2 separate regions of the Homo sapiens genome follow, and region 2 is linked to region 1. The links come from fine-mapping of genetic effects on gene expression. A gene starts in region 1. The other region holds a variant in brackets. All regions are shown on one strand. Distances are between the middles of the regions.

Evidence for each region. PIP is the estimated chance that this variant, and not a neighbour inherited with it, causes the effect.
Region 2: its variant is fine-mapped to the expression of SNHG3 in whole blood (INTERVAL, PIP above 0.99).

The regions. Positions count from the first base shown.
Region 1 is chr1:28,503,566-28,508,941 of GRCh38, reverse strand. SNHG3 (small nucleolar RNA host gene 3) reads right to left here and starts at 2,999. Exons shown (of 4, transcript NR_036473.1): 1 at 2,858-2,999; 2 at 2,615-2,722; 3 at 782-814; 4 at 1-112. RCC1 (regulator of chromosome condensation 1) reads right to left here and starts at 2,899. Exons shown (of 13, transcript NM_001381865.2): 1 at 2,858-2,899; 2 at 782-814; 3 at 37-112. SNORA73A (small nucleolar RNA, H/ACA box 73A) reads right to left here and starts at 1,577; the gene lies at 1,371-1,577. It overlaps SNORA73B (small nucleolar RNA, H/ACA box 73B), which reads right to left and starts at 384; the gene lies at 180-384. RefSeq lists enhancers at 834-1,599, 1,791-2,085.
Region 2 is chr1:28,570,888-28,576,263 of GRCh38, reverse strand. It overlaps TRNAU1AP (tRNA selenocysteine 1 associated protein 1), which reads right to left. Exons shown (of 9, transcript NM_017846.5): 7 at 4,926-5,088; 8 at 4,364-4,397. Among named protein-coding and RNA genes, the nearest start is that of SNORD99, 5.2 kb to the left of the region's middle. The variant A/G (reference allele first, on the strand shown) is at 2,185.

The DNA.
Region 1 (5,376 bases):
TCAAACCCTCCCTGTTAAAAAAAAAAATCAGTTTACCTACTCTCCCTTCTATATAAAGGACCCTAAAATTAAATGTCAATGCCAAAATGCGAAGTGCAGATCGTCTTCTCTCCTAAAAGAAAAGAAATAATGATTAGACTCCTGAAGATCCTACTTCAACTTAAAATCTAGTATACTAGATATGTTTCCTGCATGGTTTGTCTCCCCAGTCATTGTCCACAGGACTCTGGGAAGCTGTAGGAATATGCAGGCGCAGACACGAGGCCCAGCTTCATCTTCAACGTTGTGGAAAGGGACTGTACATCATGGGGCAGAGCCCTAAGCTCCCCTATGCCACTTGGACAGAGCCTGGGGAGAGTGACCTCCCAGGGTATCCACGTTGGAATGCTCATTAGTGAGGAATTGGAGTAACCGACAAATCCAATATTGCTAATCACCCACAGTATTTTCAAGGGCTAGTATCTTTCTCAGCTCAGGCTACACATGTAGATAAAGCCAATTAGGCTTCCTACAGTTCACTAGGGCAGCTTTTACTACTTTGCACTTTTAATGAGCTGACTAAAAAAAGCAATTTTTACAGAACAGAGCATATGTTGAAGTTATGTCAACATGCCTACAAAAATGCAGCAAAGTCGATATTTGGCTATTGCTCTGAGAATGATTAAATGCCTCAGAGGTAAATCCTGACCAACTAGAATAAAAGTCTCTTCAATCCTATTTCCATTACAGAAATCATTGACAAAGAGCTGATAAGCAAAAAACAATTAGCAGATTTACTCACCAAATAAGAGTTACTTGGAATCCTTAACAAATCCTGCAAAACAAGATATTAATCTATTAGTACAGCAAAACCCTAAACTTTTTCAACGAGGGGCCTCATGCTATCGCCTGGGGTTGGAGTACAGTGGCACTGGAGTATAGGTTTGAGTATAGGTCACTCCTGGGCTCCAGCGATTCTCCTTCCTCCAGCTACCTATCATCATGCCTGGCTACTTTTTAGCCAATTTTTCTTAAACATGTATTAAGACTTCAATCCAGCCAGGTGTGGTGGCTCACGCCTGTAATCCCAACATTTTGGGAGGCCAGAGGCTGGCGGATCACAAGGTCAGGAGTTTGAGACCAGCCTGACCAACATGGTGAAACCCTGTCTTTACTAAAAATACAAAAATTAGCCTGGCGTGGTGGCGGGGGCCTGTAATCCCAGCTACTCAGGAGGCCAAGGCAGGAGAATCACTTAGCATAATCACTTGAACCCGGGAGGCAGAGGCAATGGAGTGCGCCACTGCACTCCAGCCTGGGCAACAGAGCGACTCCATCTCCAAAAAAAAAAAAAAAAAAAAAGACTTCAATCCAGATTCAGTGCTCTAGAAGGCTGTTTCCTGCATGGTTTGTCTCCCCAGTAATTGTCGACAGGACTCTGGGAAGCTGTAGGAATATGCAGGCGCAGACACGAGGCCCAGCTTTATTTCCAACGTTGTGGAAAGGGACTTGTACATCATGGGGCAGAGCCCTATGCTCCCCTACGCCACTTGGACAGAGCCCGGGGAGAGTGACCTCCCGGGTGTATCCACGTTGGACAATCAGTGTAACGCATAAATTTACAGAATCCAATAGGAAACAATTTCATCCATTCATGTTACTACAGATCTTAAACAAGAAAGCAAACGAGTTTCCACCCTGTCCACAGTGGGGTGTTAAAAAAAAATCGGTTTCTAGACTGGTAACATGCATATTCAGCTATTCTAATTACTTTACAATAGGCGGTTAGTACTATGTGGAAGGTACCGCAGAAGCAAAGACAACAATTAGGCCCAGCTATCCTAAATTCAAATGAAACACGTGGACTTGTTAATTACCCCCAAATCGGCCAGGCACGATGGCTCACGCCTGTAATCCTAAAAATATAAAAATAAAAATGACCCAAATCACAAAAATACGAGAAAGCATAATTACGAAACGCAATGCTTCCAAATTATGAAAATCTTCGGCCTGGCGTGGCGGACCACAAGGTCAGGCGTTGGAGACCAGCCTGGCCAACATGGTGAAATCCCGTCTCTACTAAAAATACAAAAATAAGCCAGGCGCGGTGGTACACGCCTGTAGTCCCAGCTACTCGGGAGGCTGCGGCAGGAGAATTGCTTGAGCCCAGCAGGCGGAGGTTGCAGTGGTGCGATCAAATAAAAAGAAAAATTGAGAAAATTCTTAAAGGCAAATGAGGATCCAGAATAAAACTGTGTGCAATTATATTGAGAACGACAATGTGCCTACTATGAGGCAGTAAGATAAACAGTGGGGGTGGCGGTGCACCTTCAGAGGCTCGCTGGGTCGGGCGGCAGCCCTGCGGGTCCCGAGGTCTCCATGGCCCACTTCTGGCCCAGGCCCGTCTAACGCGTACTTTAGAGTTGGGACCGATGCCGCCTAAGACACCCATATATAGTTTTAAATTACATGATTTCCGGCCAGGCGCGGTGGCTCACGCCTGTAATCCCAGCACTTTGGAAGGCCGAGGGTGGTGGATCACCGGAAATCAGGAGTTCAAAACCAGCCTGACCAACATAGCGAAACCCCGTCTCCACTAAGAATACAAAAATTGGCCGGGCGTGGTGGCACGTGCCTGTAATCCCAGCTGCTGGAGAGGCTGAGGCACGAGAATCGCTTGAACCCGGCAGGCGGAGGTTGCAACGAGCACTGCAGTCCAGCCTGAGTGACAAACCGACTCCGTCTCAAAAAAAAAAAAAAAGTAAATAAATAAAATACTATATGATCTTCCTAGGGAAGCTCGGCTACTGATCTATAGCATTAGACCCACAACTCCGGTGGCAAGCATCTGATCACACTTACCAAGGATCACACTTACCAAGGAGAAGAAGCGACCACTGCGAATCTGTCTCCAAAAAGGAGAGAGAAAACGCGAAGCATCCTTTTTAAACCTTACGAAGTGCCCGGAAGTCCTGGAATGTCTATTGCGCGTGCGCAGAAGCATGCGCAGTTAGAGAATCAGAAACTCACTGAGGCTTCTGGGAATCTACTGCAGATTGAGCCCCACCCCTTCCTGGCTGGGAGGCCTCTCGCGGTAGTGGATCCTTCCCGCGGGACCTTGCTGGGGAATGTACGTTACAGAAATAGGTTTGTAGGTATGTAGCTGCAGAGGACGTTTACTTCTGTGCAATCACTGGACTCAGTCTGTAGGATATGCCCTTAGATAAACTGGCCAAAAAGTTTTTGGAAGAGTCGAACGCGGTGGCTCACGCCTGTGATTACAGCAGCTCTGAAGGCCGTGAGGGGCGGATCGCTTGAGGCCAGGAGTTCGAGACCGGCCTGGGCATCATGGCGAAACCCCGTCTCTACAAAAAATACAGAACATAAGCCAGGCATGGTGCCGCGCACCTCCAGTCCCAGCTACTCGGGAGGCTGAAGCATGAGAATCGTTTGAACCTGGGAGGCGGTGGTTGCAGTGAGCCGAGATCGCGCCGATGCACTCCATCCTGGTCGACAGAGCGAAACTCTCTCTCCAAATAAATAAGTAAAACGTTGGAATAATAAGAATGCAGAATGAAAAAAATACATATAGAGAAATACGGAGTATCAAAAGGAATTGAATCTGCTCTGTCACCTGTGAAAGAAATAATTTGATAAATGTGAAGGTAAATAAGATGAAAGTGCCCCTAGACGAATCAGATAAAAGTTTAAAAACTCCAGGCCTGGCCCGGATAAAAATAAATAAAAATAAAAAATAAAAAACTCCATTGCACAACAGTGTGAATGAATGTAATTAAAAGCACTGCCCTATACTCTTTCTTTTTTTTTCGAGATGGAGTTTTGCTCTGTCACCCAGGCTAGAGTGGAATGGCGCGGTCTCGGCTCACTGCAACCCCGGCCTCCCGGGTTCAAGCGATTCTCCTGCCTCGGCCTCCCCAGTAGCTGGGATTACAGGCGCCCGCCACCGTGCCTGGCTAATTTTTGTATTTTTAGCAAGACGGGGTTTCACCATCTTGGCCAGGCTGGTCTCGAACTCCTGACCTCAAGCAATCCACCCGCCTCGGCCTCCAAAGTGCTGAGATTACAGGCATGAGCCAGCGCACCTGGACTTTTTTTTTTTTTTTTTTTTTGAGACGGAGTCTCGCTCTGTCGCCCAGGCTGGAAGGAAGTGGTGTGATCTCGGCTCACTGCAACCTCCACCTCCCAGGTTCAACCAGTTCTCCTGCCTCAGCCTCCCGAGTAGCTGGGACTATAGGCATGCCACCATGCCCGGCTAATTTTTGTATTTTTAGTAGAGACCGGGTTTCACCATGTTGGCCAGGCTGCTCTCGAACTCCTCACCTCAAGTGATGCCCGCCTTGGCCTCCCAAAGTACTGGGATTACAGGCCTGAGCCACCACACCTGGCCCCCTATACATTTTAAACTAGTTAAAAATGGCAAGTTTTATGTATATTTTACCACACACAAAACCCTCTGAATATGAAGTAGGCAAGTAAAGAATGCTTACGATATATATACATAAGAAATGTTGCAAATATGATGGAATTTTTAGTGTGGTGTAAGGTGGAAAAACGTTGGCTAGAGAGACAGAGCTATCACAGCTGGGCTATCTTGAGTAGTAACGTTTATGGTGTTCCTCCTACATATTAGATTTTGTTCTGAATGCTTTATTACGTACATTATTTACTATCGCAGCAATTCTTTTTTTTTTTTTTTTTGAGATGGAGTCTTGCTCTGTTGCCCAGGCTGGAGTGCAGTGGCTCGATCTTGGCTCACTGCATTCTCTGCCTCCTGGGTTCAAGCAATTCTCCTGCCTCAGCCTCCCGAGTAGCTGGGACTGCAAGCAAGTGTCACCATGCCCCACCAATTTTTGTATTTTCAGTAGAGACGGGGTTTCACCATATTGGCCAGGGTGGTCTTGAACTCCTGACCACGTGATCTGCCCGCCTTGACCTCCCAAAGTGCTGGGATTACAGGCATGAGCCACCGTGCCCGGCCTACAAATTTTTTTTTTTTTTTAGATGAAGTCTCACTCTGTCCCCCAGGCTGGAGTGTAGTGGTGCGATCTCGGCTCACTGCAACCTCCGCCTCTCAGGTTCAAGCAATTCTCCTGCCTCAGCCTCCTGAGTAGCTGGGATTACAGGCGCCCGCCACCATGCCCAGCTAATTTTTGTATTTTTAGTAGAGACGGGTTTTCAGCATGTTGGTCAGGCTGGTCTTGAACCCCTGACCTCATGATCCACCTGCCTCGGCCTCCCAAAGTGCTGGGATTACAGGCTTGAGCCACTGCGCCCGACCCCGGCCTACAAAATTTTAAAAAAAATGTTAGCTGAGTGTAGTGGCACATTCCTGTAATCCTAGCTACTTATGAGGTGTGAGGATCACCTGAGCCCAGG
Region 2 (5,376 bases), 67 kb before region 1:
GAGGATCACTTGAGCCTAGGAGGTCGAGGCTGCAGTGAGGCATGTTCACATCACTGATCTCAAGTCTGGGCAACAAAGTGAGACTCTGTCTCAAAAAAAAAAAAAAACTGGGCACTGTGGCTCATGCCTGTAAACCCAGCACTTTGGGAGGCCGAGGTGGGCAGATCACAAGGTCAAGGGATTGAGACCATCCTGGGCAACATGGTGAAACCCTGTCTCTACTCAAATACAAAAAATTAGCCGGGTATGGCAGTGCACGCCTGTAGTCCCAGCTACTCGGGAGGCTGAGGCAGGAGAATCACCTGAACCCGGGAGGCAGAGGTTGCAGTGAACAGAGATGGCACCACTGCACTCCAGCCTGGCGACAGAGCAAAGACTCTATCTCAAAAAAAAAAAAAAAAAAAAAAGCCAGGCGCAGTGGCTCAAGCCTGTAATCCCAGCACTTTGGGAGGCCAAGGTGGGCGGACCACCTGAGGTCAGAAGTTTGAGACCAGCCTGACCAACATAGAAACCCCATCTTTATGGGGTTAGAAAAATAGAAATAGAAAATTAGCTGGGCATGCGAGATTGCGCCACTGCACTCCAGCCTGGGCGACAGAGCAAGACTCCGTCTCAAAAAAAGAAAAAAAGAAAATTAGCTGGGCATGATGGCGCATGCCTGTAATCCCAGCTACTCGGGAGGCTGAGGCAGAAGAATCACTTGAACCCGGGAGGCGGAGGTTGCAGTGAGCTGAGATCGCGCCACTGCACTCCAGCCTGGGCAACAAGAGTGAGACACCGTCTCAAAAAAAAAAAAAACAAAAAAAAACATTGGGCCTGGCGCAGTGGTTCACACCTGTAATCCCAGCATTGGGAGGCAGAGGCGGGCGGATCATGAGGTCAAAAGATAGAGACCATCATGGCCAACATGGTGAAACCCCATCTTTACTAAAAATACAAAAATTAGCTGGGCGTGGTGGCGCGCATCTGTAGTCCCAGCTATTCAGGAGGATGAGGCAGGGGAATCGCTTGAACCTGTGAGGCAGAGGTTACAGTGGGTCGAGATCGTGCCACTGAACTCCAGCCTGGTGACAGAGCAAGACTCTCAAGAAAAAGAAAACAAAAAAAGGATTAAAAAGAGATTGGAAAATTCTAAGGACTTATCTACAGATATTATGAGGCTAATTATCTCTAGAAAGAAGGCAATGTCTCCCAGGGGGAAACAACTAGAGACTTGAATATAAAAAGACCGGACTGTCCTGACTTTGCCCCACACTGTGTGACCCTCAGCAGATCACTTGGGCTTTCCGAGCCACTAGTTTCCCATCTGTGAAATGGAGCTCCTGTGTCCTTCCCAGCCCACCCCACAAGGTCACTACAGTTGGCATCACATGAGAGGACACAAGAAAGTGCTTTAAAATGTTATGAACTAGACAAGTTTGTTCATGCCCTAAAAGGGATCTGTTTCCTTTAACGAACATTTTCTTGACAGAAAACATTTTCCCTATGACTTTCTCTTGAAGACGAATCCTCAAAACAGATTTCAAACTTTGAGTCTTTTTGTACCTCAAAAAAAGTTTTGGCCAGGAGCAGTGGCTCATGCCTATAATGCCAGCACTTTGGAAGGCCGAGATGGGCAGATCACTTGAACCTAGGAGTTCAAGACCAGCCTGGGCAACATGGTGAAACCCTGCCTCTACAAAAAAATAGAAAAAAATAGCCAGTTATGGTGGGGCACAACTGTAGTCACAGCTCACTGAAGCCTCAACCTCCTGGGCCCAAGCAATCCTCCTGCCTCAGCCTCCCCCAAGTAGCTGGAACCACAGGCCACCATGCTTGGCTTTCAGTTTTTCTTTCCTTTTTCTTCTGTGAAATTCAGTGAAAATTATAAATACTTGGCCGGGCACAGTGGCTCATGCCTGTAATCAAAGCACTTTGGGAGGCTGAGGCGGGAGGATTACTTGAGGTAAGGAGTTCGAAACCAGCCTGGCCAACATGCTGAAACCCTGTCTCTACTAAAAATACAAAAATTAGCCGAGCGTGGTGGTGCATGCCTGTAATCCCAGCTACTCAGGAGGCTGAGGCAGGAGAATCACTTGAACCTGGGAGGCAGAGGTTGCAATGAGCTGAGATTGGAGACTGCACCACTGCACTCCAGCCTGGGTGACAGAGCAAGACTCCGTCTCCCAAAAAAAAAAAAAAAAA[A/G]AGAGATGGGGTCTCGTTATGTTGCCCAGGCTGGTCTCAAAGTTCTAGGCTCAAGCCATCCTCCAACCCACGTTGGCCTTCCAAAGACCTTACAGGCTTTAGCCACCGTGCCTAGACAGTAAATACTGTTGTTTTTTTTTTTGAGACGGAGTTTCACTCTCGTCACCCAGGATGGACTGCAATGGAGCATTCTTGGCTCACCGAAACCTCCATCTCCCGGGTTCAAGTGAGTCTCCTGCTTCAGCCTCCCAAGGAGCTGGAATTACAGGCATGGGCCACCATGCCTGGATAATTTTTTTTTTTTTTTGAGACAGAGTCTTGCACTGTTGCCCAGGCTGGAGTACAGTGGTATGATCTCGACTCACTGCAACTTCCGCCTCCCGGGTTCAAGTGATTCTCCTGCCTCAGCCTCCTGAGGAGGTGAGATTATAGGCGCGCAACACCACGCCTGGCTAATTTTTTTATTTTTAGTACCGGCAGAATTTCACCATGTTGGCCAGGCTGGTCTAGAACTTCCGACCTTAGGTGATCCTCCCGCCGTGGCTTCCCAAAGTGCTGGGAGTACAGGGGTGAGCCACCGCGCCTGGCAATTTTTTTATTTTTAGTAGAGACGGGGTTTCACCATGTTGGCCAAGATGGTCTCGATCTCTTAACCTCATGATTCACCCTCCTTGGCCTCCCAAAGGGCTGGGATTACAGGGGTGAGCCACCGTGCAAGGCTTAAATATTTTTAATTAAAAAATTAATAATGGGCTGGGCACGGTGGCTCACCCCTGTAATCCCAGCACTTTGGGAGGCGAGGCAGGCGGATCACGAGGTCGAGTTTGAGACTAGCCTGGCCAAGATGGTGAAACCCCGTCTCTACTAAGAATACAAAAATTAGCTGGGCGTGGTGGCATGTGCCTGAAATCCCAGCTCTTCGGGAGGCTGAGGCAGGAGAATCACTTGCACCCGGGAGGCGGGCTTGCAGTGAGATGAGATTGCGCCACTGCATTCCAGTCTGGGTGACACAGCAAGACTCTGCCTCAAAAAAAAAAAAAAAAGAAAAAGAAAAAATTAATAATGGCTATTACTATGTTGTAATAGGATATGGGGTGATTTTCAGTTTCATTATACTTTACTATATTTTCTTTTTCTTTTTTTTTGAGACGGAGTCTCGCTCTGTCTCCCAGGCTGGAGCCCATTGGTGCGATCTCGGCTCACTGCAAGCTCTGCCTCCCGGGTTCACGCCATTCTCCTGCCTCAGCCTCCCGAGTAGCTGGGACTACAGGCGCCCATCACCACACCCGGCTAATTTTTTCTATTTTTTAGTAGAGACGGGGTTTCACCGTGTTAGCCAGGATGGTCTCGATTTCCTGACCTCACAATCCACCTGCCTCGGCCTCCCAAAGTGCTGGGATTAGAGGCGTGAGCCACCATGCCTGGCCCATACTTTACTATATTTTCCAAATTTTCCATCCTAACGATGACTTAAAAATCAGGAAAATATGTCTTTTAAAATATATTGAAAAACAGAAAAAAAATAAAATAAATAAAAAATGAATTTTACAAACAGTCAAACAAATAAAAGGTAACAGTATTATCGGCCAGGCACAGTGGCTCATGCCTGTAATCCCAGCACTTTGGGAGGCTGAGGCGGGCGGATCACCTAAGGCTGAGAGTTTGAGACCGGCCAAGCCAACATGGAGAAACCCTGTCTCTACTAAAAATACAAAATAATTAGCTGGGCATGGTGGTGCATGCCCGTAATCCCAGCTACTCGGGAGGCTGAGGCAGGAGAATTGCTTGAACCTGGCAGGTGGAGGTTGCGGTGAACTGAGATCATGCCATTGCACTCCAGCCTGGCCAACAAGAGTGAAACTCCACCACACACACACACAAAAAAAGGGTAACAGTATTATCGTTAGAGGCCCACATACCAGGATAGAATGCCACATGTCAAGGGGGTGATGGGCTCTCCTGGAGCTGCCTGTCCCAGGCTCTCTGGGATCTACACTTACACCTCTGGGTAACACCCGACACATCTTACCATAATTACATATTTGTCTGGCTCTCTAACCAGAATGTAAGTTCTTCCAGAGCAGAATTTATCTTGTCTTCCCTCTAGCTGAGAGCACAGTGCCAGCCACAGCAGTCACCTGATAATGGCTGACAGAGTAAGGAACGTATGAACCCTTACCTTCCAATGCATCATCTCCAACTTCTTCATATGTCTGCCAAGAGACCAGAGATGTGGGTTAGGGGCATGGTGAAATCCTGGCCCAGGACCACAGTGGCTTATATTTTTTATTTTTTTTGAGGTGGAGTCTAGCTCTGTCACCCAGACTAGAGTGTAGTGGCGTGATCTCGGCTCACTGCAACACCCGCATCCCAGTTTCAAGAGATTCTCCTGCCTCAGTCTCCTGAGCAGCTGGGATTATAGGCGCCTGCCACTATGCCCAGCTAATTTTTTGTATTTTTAGTAGATACAGGGTTTCACCATGTTGGCCAGGCTGGTTTTGAACTCCTGACCTCAGGTGATCTACCTGCCTCGGCCTCTCAAAGTGCTAGGATTACAGGTGTGAGCCACTGGGCCCTACCCACAATGGCTTATTTTTAACAAGAGGAACTGGACTGCTTCAACTTTCCCTATTTTTTCTGAAGCCCAAGCCCCTGTCCTTACCAATCCCATCCTAGAGAATGACCTGTTTCTAGAGGAGAAACACAACCCAAGGGGACCAGTCTTGCCAAGTCATGGTTACCTGCATGGTGCTCTGGGTATAGCCATACTGGGGGTAACTGTAGCTGTAGCTGCCTGTGTTCTGGTCATAGCCCCACTGAGCATAGTAGTTCTGGTACTGCTGATAATACTGGTTGTAGCTATAACTGTACATCTGACTATATTCCACTGGCTTTACACGGCTCCTTAAATGAAGACAGAAACAAAAATAAGTGTAAGCAAACATTTCCGTAACACTGCCTATGTGGCCACAGACTATTTTAAGTGCTTTATACCGATTAACTTTTTTTTTTCTTGAGACAGAGTCTTGCTCTGTTGCCTAGGCTGGAGTACAGGGGCGCAATCTCGGCTCACTGCAACCTGCGCCTCCCGGGTTCAAGCGATTCTCCTGCCTCAGCCTCCTGAGTAGCTGGGACTACAGGTGTGTGCCACCACGCCTGGCTAATTTTTTGTATTTTCAGTAGAGACAGGGT